4 separate regions of the Homo sapiens genome follow, and regions 1, 2 and 3 are each reported to be linked to region 4. The links are microRNA targets in miRTarBase. Many come from high-throughput screens and were not tested one by one. Region 4 holds a microRNA gene; each other region holds the end of a gene's coding sequence.
Evidence for each region. The annotated mature microRNA hsa-miR-142-3p reads UGUAGUGUUUCCUACUUUAUGGA and lies in region 4 at 1,709-1,731, opposite strand. An mRNA with a match to its seed (bases 2 to 7 or 8) in the 3' UTR can be bound and repressed. Matches are read on the target gene's strand: a 7mer-m8 pairs with bases 2 to 8, a 7mer-A1 pairs with bases 2 to 7 and ends in A, and an 8mer does both.

Region 1 (3,093 bases), not on the chromosome of region 4:
TCTGGACAGACTATAAATCAGAAGCACCAGCAATATTTGTGATGCCAAAACTGACCACTAACAAAAGTGAATTATCATGAAGTTTTGGAGGGGTGGGAGTGGAAGTTTTATGTGACGTCCCTTCCCTTCGAGGCACCCTTCAGTGTCCCATGCATACGTGAGATACATAAGCCAAGGCTGGTCACCACAGTGCTGTTGTCTCCCTGCACAACACTAGCAGGAAAACACAGTGATGAGGGAACAGTTAAGAGGACAACAGGACTCACTGTCCAGTCCCCTCCCCTAAAACTGTCTATGAACCAACAATCCACCCTTCCTGAGCTCTCCATTCTGTTCCTCTCGTCTGTGTATCCATTTGGGAGCTGGTGCCACTGTGCCCAATTACAACTAATGTATCTTTTTTAAATTTTATTTTTAAGAGTCAGGGTCTCACTCTGTCACCCAGGCTGGAGTGCAGTGCTGCAATCATGGCTCACTGCAGCCTCCAACTCCCAAACTCAAGCAATCCTCCCACCTCAGCTTTCTGAGTAGCTAGGATGATAGGCAAGCACCACCATGCTCAGCTAATTTTTTTTTTTAAGAGACGGGGGTCTCACCATGTTGCCCAGGCTGGTCTCAAACTCTTGGGTTCGAGTGATTCTCTCACTTCAACCTCCCAAAGTGCTAGGATTACAGGTGTAAGCCACCACACCTGGCCTAATATATCTCACTTCCTGGTATTGTGGATCCTAAAAGCCATTTCATAGGTACACTTCTGACCCTTGCTCTCTTTCAGAAGAGAAAGAGAAGGCTGAAAACCACCTTCTGGATGTTCTTCTATCATAATTTGGTGTCTCTTGGGTGAATTCTGTCTCCTAACTTGGTTTTAACCACAGTCTGTGAGCTGAAGGCTCCAAATTGTATGTCCGAGACCTGGCTCCCCAGCTCTAAAGCCACAGACTCAGCAGACGACTGGCATCACCATTGGCTGCCAACAGGCACCTCAAACACAACACACCCAAAATAGGTACCGTCAGCAACCCCCATCTTCCTCCCTCATCCTTCTGGATGTCTCCTCTTCCAATCTAATCAGTCACCACGTTGAAATGATTCTATTTCCTTTACATCTTTCAATCCCACTCTTTCCCCTCTGTTCCTACTATAATTTTTTCTCTGGACTTCTGCAATCACCTCCTAATGGGCCTATCTGCTTCCAGCCTCACTCCCCAAAGCTGCTCAAGTGAGTGCTCTTTTTAAACTTTGTATCTGATGATGTCACTTGTACACTTAAAACCTTTCAGAGGTCCCTCCCGCCCCAGGATAAAATCCAAATTCCTCAGGGTTGCATACCAGACCCTATACAATCCAGACCTCCTATTTCTCTAAGTTCAGAGATGCTCCCTGCCCTCCCACTCCACTTGGCACTCAACACTCCCACCCTTCTGCAATTCCTCCATTCCCAAACTCTCCTGTCCTTGCCCCCCAACCTCCAGATGGCATTTGCACTGCTCTTCTCTTGGCTCAGGCAGCTCTCCCCTGCCCTTGCCCCTCATCTGCCTCCCCACTGCCACCTGTCCTTCCAGATCTGGTCCCAGGCCTCTGAGGGGCCTCTCCTGACCTCCCATCTCCACCCCACACCTGTTCACACTCCTGCCACACGCACCGTGCTGTAGTATAACTGTTCCTATGCTTCTCCCTGAGCCTGTGACCTCCCCATGACAGGTCCTGGGTCCCTCAAATCTGCACCCAGTATTTGGTCCAGTGCTTGGCAAAATAAACAGGTTCCCTGGTGGGAGGAACTAGGCACAGTGCCATCAGATGGCCGCATCACATTTTCAAGGCCTCTGATGTTCAGGCAGGGAGGTGGACTCCGTGCTACAGTGAGCCACAATAAGAATAAAATGCCATTTTAGGAAAAGTAAACTCACAGTGCCACACGGGGCACTGTGAAGGATTTCAGAACACGGGGCAGGTGGCAATGAAAGTAGGCTGCTGAGATGGCAGTGCCCTTTGCTAGAGTGGCTAAGAGCAGGAAGGGAGATGCAGGAGCGCAAGTGGACTCTGCATCTGCATCTGGATTCTGTATCGGTGAGTGAGTGTTCTGCACAGGCAATCACAGCAGCAGCTGTGGACTGGCACAGGCAGCCAGAGAAGGTGGCACAAACAGGTTCCACCCCCAGGTGGGCACCCCAGGCCTGTGGTATGCCACCCTCCTGCATCTCAATGAATAAAATACAATCTTATTTGCTAACTGATATGGTTTGGCTGTGTCCCCACCCAAATCTCATCTTGAATTGTAGCTCCCATAATTCCCACGTAGGAACACACACGTGGAAATTATGGGAACTACAATTCAAGATGAGGGGCCTGGTGGGAGGTAACTGAATCATGGGGGCAGTTTCCCCCATACTGTTCTCTTGGTAGTGAACAAGTCTCACAAGAGCTGATGGTTTTATAAGGGGAAACCCCTTTCACTTGTTTTTTGTTTTTTTTTTTTGAGATGGAGTCTTGCTCTGTCACCAGGCTGGAGTGCTTGACCCTTATACTCTCTTGCCTGCCGCCATGTAAGAAATGCCTTTTGCCTTCAACCATGATTGTGAGGCCTCCCCAGCCACGTGGAACTGCGAGTCCATTAAACTTCTTTATCTTTATAAATTACTCAGTCTCAGGTATGTCTTTATCAGCAGCGTGAAAACGGACTAACACACTAACTTTTGTCTCCATCCTGGAAGGCAGCAGATTTAAGGAAGCTATGGATGAACGCTGTGAAATGAATGAATTCAGCCTCAGCAGCTATTCCCTCCTATTCATTGCTGCTTCCCCAAAATGTGGGAAGATGAAGCCAAGCAGGGAAACTCCTACCTGAATTCTGCCTCCTGAGCTACGGCTCCCGTTCAGAGGACACGTCGCCCTCAGCCCCGCTGCTGGCACTGCGGTCTTCTTTTCGGGGAGTGTTTCTTTCCTTGCTTGATTCAGAAGGTCCCTTAGCTCTGGTCTTTTCTTTCCTCTGCTGCTGTTTTTCGAGCTTTGACAGCTGATTAAATAAAAATAAAAAAGAATATTTTACAAACACAAACACATGCCTGTGTATCCCACACACCAGTGACTTCCCAG
Region 2 (3,093 bases), not on the chromosome of region 4:
AAGCAAAAATGTATGTACAGCCATTTCGGATTGTATTTCTGCTAGTGGGACATAAATGTGATTTAGCTTCACAACGTCAAGTTACAAGGGAAGAAGCTGAAAAACTGTCAGCAGACTGTGGAATGAAGTATATAGAAACCTCAGCAAAGGATGCTACAAATGTTGAAGAATCCTTCACAATCTTGACGAGAGACATATATGAACTTATTAAAAAGGGAGAAATTTGTATTCAGGATGGCTGGGAAGGGGTTAAAAGTGGTTTTGTTCCAAATACTGTGCATTCTTCTGAGGAAGCAGTAAAGCCCAGGAAAGAATGCTTCTGCTGACTTCAAACATGCTGAAGAACTAACAGGAACAGATTGGGTGTCAGTTCAGGATAAATACCAACATTAACAGCAGAATGATGCAATGAAAGAATTTAAAAAGGTTACAAACCCACACCAATACTATTTTATAAGGTATTTGATTCAGAGCATGATGCTTACTTGTTACACTACTAGATTGGGTATTTTGCTAAATTACCAAGCAAAGCAGACAATCTTTTTCTTGAAATTACCTCCATTCTTACTTTGTTAGCATACGCTGACCTTAGTGTCCAGATATGTCACTATTACTCATTTTTCTTGACAGTTCAAATGGATTTTTGTGCATATATAGTCAATTGAAAAGATTTTATCAGGAATTACATTCTCTTGAGTTAATTAATATTGAATAGCAAAATGCATTTAAATATGCACTGTTCACCTGCAGAGTAAACAATCTCAGAAGTATCGACTAGGACGTAAATAGCAGTTCCTTATATAAAGTACCAGGTTTTTTCCCCATTCTCTGGAAATGTTTGTCCTCCCTTAATTTTGCCTCAACACAAGAAAATAAGTTTTATGTCCATTTTTGTTCCCTAATTTATTGCTTCTAAAAATGCATTATGTTTTACAAAGATATCTAAGGATCCAAGCAAACTACTTTAAGCAAATATTTGTAAAATTAAAAACGGAGGACCGCTCACCAAATGTTTGAAATGTTGCTTTTTTTTTTTGAGACAGGGTCTTGTTTTGTCACCCAGGCTGGAGTGCAGTGGGGCAATCTTGGCTCCCTGCAACCTCTGCTTCCTGGGTTCAGGTGATTGTCAGTACCTTACCTCAGCCTCCTGAGTAGCTGGAACTGCAGATGTGCGCCACCATGCCCGGCTAATTTTTGTATTATAAGTAGACACAGGGTTTCATAATGTTCCCCAGGCTGGTCTCCAACTCCTCGCCTCAAGCAATTCGCCCCCCTCGGCCTCCAAAGTGCTGGAATTATAGGCATGAGCTGCCGTGCCTGGACTATCAGCAGCACATGTTTTGCTGTTACGGTGTACTGTTCGTATTTAGACAAGAAGAACAAAATTTATTTATGTATTGACATTTTCAAAGAAAGTAAATGCAATTTACTTTGAACTATTGTCAAAATTATTAATATAGGTAAACATGGAATGTTTTTAATAATAGCATTTTTGTCCAAGTAAATTTCCAAATTTCCTAATTTCCAATATGAAAAGAATGCAGAAAAGATTTTTCTGGGGAAGAAAAATTGGTTAGATGCTTGATATATTTAGCCTTCAAATTGCATTTTACAATCTCATCAGTACAAGTTAAGATAGAATAATCAATTAAGACAGTAAAATGACTTTTGAGTTTCCTAATTTTTAACTTATTGATTAAACTCTCCTGGAAGGGATATTTTGATCATAGTGTCAAATATTTTATAATGTACATTTCTATTCTGTTCTGTAAACTACTCTTAATCACAAAAGAGTACCAAGTGAAGTTTTTTGGAATCATAAGGTTTTTACTCTTAACCTTTAGTTGCTTCATTTGTTTGAAAACCAAAGTGGCATAGTAGAAAGAATATTTAATAAGAAATCAGAAAACTTGGTTACCAATATCTAACCATGAGTAAGTCACTTGACCTCTCTAAGCACCATTTTTCTTATCTGTAAAATTAGGCTAATAACCCCATTTATTAGTGTGTTTCATGGAAAATTATTTTGAGAATCTAGTGAATGATGCAACAAACACTTTGTAAATAGAGTAAGCATTTTGAGATTGATATGCTGCTCATGGGCATACTATTATATTTACAATGGGTGAGAATTTTGTTTTCTCATGATTTTTCCTTTCGTTCCTATGCAGAGGGAGTAGAAAAAGATGTGTGTCTTCATGGACCCGTAGGAATTCTTGATTGATGCATATCCTCTGCTTATTTTTTTTGGCGGGGGTGGGGGGCGAGGGGGCCGAGGTCTTGTTCTGTTGACCAGGGTGGAGCGCAGTGGCATGATCACAGCTCACTGCATCCTGGACCTCCCAGTCTCAAGCGAGCCTCCCACTTTAGCCTTCTGCTAGCTGGGACCACAGGTGCACGCCACCACGCCTGGCTAATTTTTTATTTTCTATAGAGAAGGGGTCTCCCTATGTTGCCCAGGGTATAGGTCTCATACGCCAGGGCACAAGTCTCATATGCCAGGGCACAAGCAATCCTTCTGCCTCGGAGTCCCAAAGTCCTGGAATTACAGGCATGAGCCCCTGCGCCCGCTTCCTCTGCTTTTTTTACCCTGAGCTATTGTTCCTGCAAAGTGGAAATAATAGAGAGGGACGTTCCTGCAGACTTAACCCAATCAAAAGTCACGTTTGTGCTTTTTGTGCATCTTTGAAGTAAATATTTAATTGTATTTTCAAATACTTGTACATTTTCTGGGTTCATGTATTTTTAATTGTGCTTATGGAGAGATTATAAATTATAACTATATAAGGTATGACTATTTATATTGTCAGCATTTTCTTGATATCATTAGGTTAATTTCACATGAGTTCAAACCGTAATTAACCAAATGAGAAAATACTTGTCCCCCAAAATGTGAAGTAGTCCATTTTACTGTTACAGTTTTCAATATTATATGACAATTTCCCATCAGTCCAAAATGGCATAAACCCCAACACTGAAAATTTAGCAGTTGAAAGTACAGTCACCTGTGCCTACTTCTAAAGTTAAATAGCTAAAACATAAAATATGATTTAAATTTCAGTGGACACCCTTTATAATACTAATGTCAGGAGA
Region 3 (3,093 bases), not on the chromosome of region 4:
TTTTCACCTAGACCTTTGCTACATTGCTACAAACCTGATCTTACACATATAAATTGAGGTTTCTAATGTACACACTTAGACTCAGCAACTGTTGAACCAGCCCTTTCAACCATGAGATAGTGGGATTTAACATAACCATCTATGTGAATTGATAGTGTTAGCATTCTTGGATAGTGATAGCTCCTCAGAGTAAGTTGACTTCTGATGAAGAGATAGTCCAGGGATAGAAATTGGATTGCTCAGTAAGACCCAGGCCTTTCCGGGGTGAAGCTGCTGGTTCTAAACAATCCCTTGGACCTGCAGAGTCCTGAGCAAATGGCACAAAGGTTGCTTTTTAGTGGAAATTCACAAGGGCCTGTGGGGTGCCTGGAGGTGATCTTTGAATGCCTACATGTCGTGAGCCCTGCAGACATTCGCCACCCCATCTGCATTGTGGCTGCAGCACTGGGGGGGGTCACCAGGTTTAGGGGAGGAGTGTATGTAGTCATGGCCACACCCAGAGGCTGGCTTTTGTGCTTTGGGTTTCTTTGTTGACTGAAAAAGCGAGAAAGGTGAGCTATTGGGAAATTAAAAGTCCTGTGCACTCTGTGTCTTGTTTATCAGCTTTGCCTCGGAATGGAAAAGAATTTGGATAGAACATGAGTGTTGTGTGACGGCCCCAAGATCTTTATTATTTTTTTGTATCAGAAAGCGCCAATGCCCAGGCTTATGTATGTCCCAGCAGAAGCCACCGCTTGAACTAGAGGTGAACTTTGTCATCAAGCTGTCCTGTGAGCAGGTCTGGATCACACTCTGGCTCAGTTTTCTCATCTGTAAAATGAGACATCCCCTCATTGTGTGGCCTGGCCTTGTCTCAGGGAGCGCCCGCCGAGTGCTGCTGGGTTGGGCAGTTTTTCTGCCCAGTGGCTCTGATGGGGGCTCAGAGCCCTGGCCTCCCCTGGGAGGACACGCTGTGCAGCCAGGACAGCTGCCGGGAGTGTGCCCAGGTCACTGCTATGGCCTTCGCAGGGTGACTGGCAGGTATCAAATCAGCCCATGAAGGAAGATGGTGATTTTCCTTTTTTGTAGCTAAATTGGGCAGGCTCTTGGGAAGTAGAAAGTTCTGGTGTTTTTGCTGGTGAAGGTTTTGACTGTGGAGCTCTTCTAACACCCATATCAGTGTCTGTTTCTCTGCATGTGGCTGCTGCCCTGTTGGTGGAGCTCTGGGGGCAGAGACCAGGCCGCCGTCCAGTGGCGCCCCGTGCGCACCAGCTGCCTGCTGTTTACACCCAGGTGCGCCGAGTCTCTTTCATACAGCACAGCAAATGATAATAGCTAGTGACAATGTGTTTCCTGTGCACTCGTGAAAATGCAGGGAGGACAACTGCATGCTTAGATCTGTTTCTTTTTTCAGACATTCAAATGTTCTAATATCTGAAGCTAACATTTTGTAGGATATAGGATGCTGATTATGTGAACAATTAGTCATTGGTTTTCTGTACTGCTATGAATATGTCTGATTTCAAGTTTTGGTCAAATATCTAAAATGCAAGGTGAAAGTGCCTTTGTCTCTATGCTTCTAAAATCGCTCATGCTTAGTTGTGGTATGGATGTCTTCCGCAGTGTATCATCAATAAAATTTCACTGTTTTCACAGAAATGTTGCTTTTTACATTTTTTAAACAGTACTTTCCCTGAATGCCAAACACAGAATAAAACTTTACTCACCACACTTTCTGGTTTGACTAAAACGCCCGTGAAGGCTGCTAGGGAGCCAGCGATGCTGACTGGCAATGCAGGCGACCCTCGTGATGAGCACACCGGCTGTGGAGGGTTCTGGATGGAGGCTCAGCTCTTGCCATTCATCCTGGCAGATAGATAGATACATGGCACGCACATCACAGGTTCAGCACAGGGCGCCAGTACTTTACTTTTAGGGTAGGGGAGAGTGGGTGAGAAACATTTGTACTTTAATATTTTTGTATATTTATTTACTTTTTGAGTTGGGGTCTCTGTCATCCAGGCTGGAGTGCAGTGGCATGATGATGGCTCACTACACCCTGGACTCCAGGCTCAGGTGATCCTCCCACCTCAGCCTCTTGAGTAGCTGGGGCTACAGGTGTGCAACACGATGCCTGGCTAATTTTTTTATGTTTTTTATAGATTAGATACATGATTTTGCCATGTTGCCCAGGCTGGTCTTGAACTCCTGGACTCAAGCGATCTATCCGCCTTGGCCTCCCAAAGTGCTGAGATTATAGGCGTGAGCCACCACACCTGGCCAGTAATTTACTGTTGTTTTAAAATCTATAGCAATCAATCAATCAATCAAAGCAAAAATGTCATCCATTTTATATAAGAGACCTTATTGACATTGAGTTTAAAGAACACCTTTCATTTAAGTGTGATGTGCCCCTTGTTAAATAGCTGCCACTGTAATGGAGGCTTTTATTCAGCCCTTCCCTAAGCATCTGCCTCTTGTTTGTTAGGTGACATCTCACCTGACAACAACTTTAGCAAACAAACACTTGCCACTTCCCCTTTCTAGAACCCCCACTCAGAGAACTAAGAATATCTAAAAATAACAATATTTTAAACATCTGAGTATATTTTATTCGTAAGAAAAAAAGGAAGAAATAACCACAAATATTGCTTAAGAAAATAAATTCAGCTGACTTGGCTACAAGAGACGGAGCTTGTTACTCAGGGTCTTCCTCCGGTGGGACCACTTCCATTAGCATCTGAAGGTGCATGGTAATCGGCTCTGAAATAAGAGTCAAAAATGAGTACAGTTAGTTAGACTGAAATTCGAAAGTTTCACTGGAGTTGTTGTGGGTGAGGGTGACATTGTTTTCAGTCTTTGGTGATGCGTCACCTAGACCCTGTGCTCAGGATGGCCAGCTTTCCTGCCTTCTGGTTGGATTTCACACTTTCCTGGCTTCTGTCTTCTCCCAGAATTGCAGGAATAGAAATAAAAACCTCCTAGGAGTGTCCGGAGGGACGACTGCACTTTCCAGTTCAGATGAGCTGAACAGGAGAAACAGGCAGGCTTTTAATCACATTCACTTAATAAATCTTAACTGGCTGTTACAGGCTGCCGCAGCCAGAGTTAAAT
Region 4 (3,093 bases):
TAGGCAAGCCAGTTTCAGCCAAGGTCGGGGGCCCTCGTGTGGCACCCCCACAGAATAGCAGCGGTGATACTGAACCCTAGAGCCCCTGACTGTGGGCTCCACCCAGGCAAGAGCCAATGGAACTGGAGGTAGGGGGTGCATGGGGAGGAGTGGACATCTTCACTTCCCTAAAGCAGTGTGTAGGTCAACACGCACGCCACTGCATGATGTGTTGCTGTTTAGGTCAGAGTATATATGCATGCCATTATGCGCATGCGTGTGTATAGTATGCATCTATAGAATAGACATTATCTATTTCTGTATATGTGAAGGGGCCATTGTGTGTATATATGTGTGTGCTATTATGTGTCTATGAGTCACATAATAAAACGTAACAAAAACACATTGGGTGTATCTGTATGTATGTTTCTGTGTCATTGCATCTATGTTTGTTTGCCACTGTGTCTATGTGTGTGCTGTTATGTGCATGGGAGGCTATCATTGCATGAGTTTATAAATTACAACACATCATGATATATATAGATATGGATGCTACTATATGGCACAATGTAGTAATTGATTACACAATATATGACATGCTCATATCGTCATGTAAATATGCATAATGACATGGTTTGATTTATATATATATATCACCATGTATCTATGTATTCTATATTTATCATGATATATGAACATGTCTCTATCTATGTATGTGTATGGAGCCACCGTGTTTATTATGCAAATGTCACTGTATGTGTGTGCTCTTCTATGTGTAAGACACGCCCTATGTTTCTATCATTGCATGTGTGTACTACTGAATATGTATGTGCCCTGGGTGTGTGTAATCCCTGTGTGTGTCATGCCAGTCATGTCACATGTGTCTGTGTGTGTGTTACTGGCACACTGAATGGGGCCTCTGTGTGTAAATGCATTTGCATCTCAGTGTGTGCTTTGTATATGAGTGTCTGTGCCCTTGTCTAAGATGCTGTGTATGTGCCACAGTGGATTTTGCCCAATTTTTATATGACCTAGGACCCCCTAGACTTTCTTAGATTAAAACTGGATGTAGGCAGCTTTCAGTTTGGGTATGTAGGGGGGCAGGATAGGGCCAGAGCTAGGGTAGAAGGTGAGAGGATGCCTTACATCCCTGCCCCTTTCTGCAGATGGCCCAGGCCCTTCTCTCCTCCGGCTGTGGCCTGGCCAGGCCCAGAGCCCTCTTCTGATCTCATAGGCAGGGCCAAACCCGTATCTTCTGGAGGAGCGACAGAGGTTCTCCCTCCCAGCCCTTCTGTGCGCCCATACTGTCCATGTGCCTGCCGCCCGCATTCAGCTCCCCACCCCAGCAACAGAGTCTCAGACAAAAGAGAAGCACAGTCCAGTCTTTATTAGCATTGGGTCCCTGGTCCCACCACCCATTCCCCTCCACGTACCATCCCTTCCCACCCCTTCCTCGTCCTTGACGCTGCGGCTGCATCAGGGTTCCACATGTCCAGCCCTCCCCGCCCCCAAAGACTGCAGGGCAGCAGAGGAGCTGCTGTGGCCTTTCCCCAGCTGTCCGGAACCAGGAAGGGCAGGAAAGCCATGGAGGCCTTTCAGGCATCTGGGCAGGGTAGGGAGGGGCCGTAAGGTGCTCACCTGTCACACGAGGTCCCCGAGCGCCGAGGAAGATGGTGGCGGGCAGCGGGCGGCAGCAGTGGCGTGATCTCCGAAGCCCACAGTACACTCATCCATAAAGTAGGAAACACTACACCCTCCAGTGCTGTTAGTAGTGCTTTCTACTTTATGGGTGACTGCACTGTCTGTCTGTCCGTCGGCGTGTACTCTTCAGGCTGCCCAGGCCTCCTGACTCCTGCTCCAAGAGCCCCCCAGCCCTCCTTGTGGCTTCCTAAGATCCCCCCAACCCTGCCAGGGCCCCCCGAGGGCCCGCCCTGGGCCTTGTGGGCGGTGACTCAGCATGGCGCCAGACTTGCCTCCTCTACCTCCCTCCCCCACTTCCTCTTCAGTTCCCTCTTCCCTTCCCCCTAAAGGCTCCACCCCATCCCCCCAGTTTCAGAGACACTCAGGTAGAGACTAGGGCCTCTGGAGGCCTCACCTTCAGTTCTGTGAACCCCTGGCTGGCCGCTTCCAGCCACGCTAGCCACCCTCCAGCGTCCAAATGAGGCAGCCACAGCTCCCCTGCCAAGGTCTTGGTCTCCAGTCCACCCCAACCGTGAGGTCCTGACTGCCCAGAGCCTCAGTCCCCACCCTTCAGCCTCCCCACCAGCCCAAGATCCTGACCCCCCAGGGCCTAAGTCCCCAGCCTCCCCAACAGCCCAGGGTCCTGACCCCCCAGGGCCTCAGGCCCTGGCCTCCCCACCAGCCCAAGGTCTTGAACACACCAGGGCCTCAATTCCCAGCCTCCCCACCAGCTCAAGGTCCTGACTCCCCCAGAGCCTCAGTCCCAGCCTCCATAGCAGCCCAAGGTCCTGACCCCCCAGGGCCTCAGTCCCCAGCCACTCCACCAGCCCCAAAGTCCTGACTCCCCAGAGCCTTGATTCTCGGCCTCCCCACCAGCCCAAAGTCCTGACTCCCTCACTGCCCTGCTGTTCCCCTGGCAGGAGCCCAAGGCTATCCCAACAAAAATGGTGGCCATGTTGGGCGGAGGAAGAGGCTGGCGCCCCTTGAGACACTGGTCCCACTTCTCAGCCTCTGCGTACCCTCTGCCATCCCCGCCTTACTCTCCAGCCCTCCTCCTTGGACACCTCTTTCCCCGCCTGGGGTCCCGGAGCCATTTTACCTTCCTTCACTAGAGAGGGTTTCAAGGCGCTTTGCCCTGAGCTTCCCGCATGGGGCTTGCACCCAAGCTCCTCGACACCCCCAACGCGCCTCCACCCAGACCAGCAGCCCAAGCCCCTAGAGGCCCCGAGCTGAGGAGCCCCAGTTGGGGCAGCAGTGAAGGTCCGGATCCTTACCTGAGGCTGCAGGGCGGAGGAGAGCTCGCCCTGTGCTCCAGGCTCCGAAGTGGGGTTCCCTTCAGGGAGGGCAGGGCTTATAACCCCGAGGCCACGTGGGCCAGATCTCAGGGCGCCCAACGGTCTCAGAGCGCGCCCCGCCCCCGCCCGCAGGGGATGA

Region 1: miRTarBase lists DTD1 as a target of hsa-miR-142-3p. The part of its 3' UTR that is shown has no 7-base or 8-base seed match.
Region 2: miRTarBase lists RAB39A as a target of hsa-miR-142-3p. Seed matches in the 3' UTR shown: 7mer-m8 at 491-497.
Region 3: the mRNA of SLC7A9 is a reported target of hsa-miR-142-3p. The part of its 3' UTR that is shown has no 7-base or 8-base seed match.

The regions. Positions count from the first base shown.
Region 1 is chr20:18,744,020-18,747,112 of GRCh38, reverse strand. DTD1 (D-aminoacyl-tRNA deacylase 1) reads right to left here. Exons shown (of 6, transcript NM_080820.6): 5 at 2,842-3,013. The coding sequence ends at 2,861. Among named protein-coding and RNA genes, the nearest start is that of DTD1-AS1, 47 kb to the right of the region's middle.
Region 2 is chr11:107,962,047-107,965,139 of GRCh38, forward strand. It overlaps RAB39A (RAB39A, member RAS oncogene family), which reads left to right. Exons shown (of 2, transcript NM_017516.3): 2 at 1-1,436. The coding sequence ends at 326. Among named protein-coding and RNA genes, the nearest start is that of RAB39A, 35 kb to the left of the region's middle.
Region 3 is chr19:32,827,943-32,831,035 of GRCh38, forward strand. SLC7A9 (solute carrier family 7 member 9) reads right to left here. Exons shown (of 13, transcript NM_014270.5): 13 at 2,569-2,742. The coding sequence ends at 2,678. TDRD12 (tudor domain containing 12) reads left to right here. Exons shown (of 33, transcript NM_001366102.1): 33 at 1-1,638. Among named protein-coding and RNA genes, the nearest start is that of SLC7A9, 40 kb to the right of the region's middle. RefSeq lists an enhancer at 1,093-1,614.
Region 4 is chr17:58,329,537-58,332,629 of GRCh38, forward strand. MIR142 (microRNA 142) reads right to left here and starts at 1,782; the gene lies at 1,696-1,782. The region is part of intron 2 of TSPOAP1-AS1 (TSPOAP1, SUPT4H1 and RNF43 antisense RNA 1); the gene reads left to right. It overlaps MIR142HG (MIR142 host genes), which reads right to left and starts at 2,984. Exons shown (of 1, transcript NR_186557.1): 1 at 1,352-2,984. RefSeq lists enhancers at 2-81, 1,872-2,011, 2,812-2,881 and a silencer at 2,992-3,093.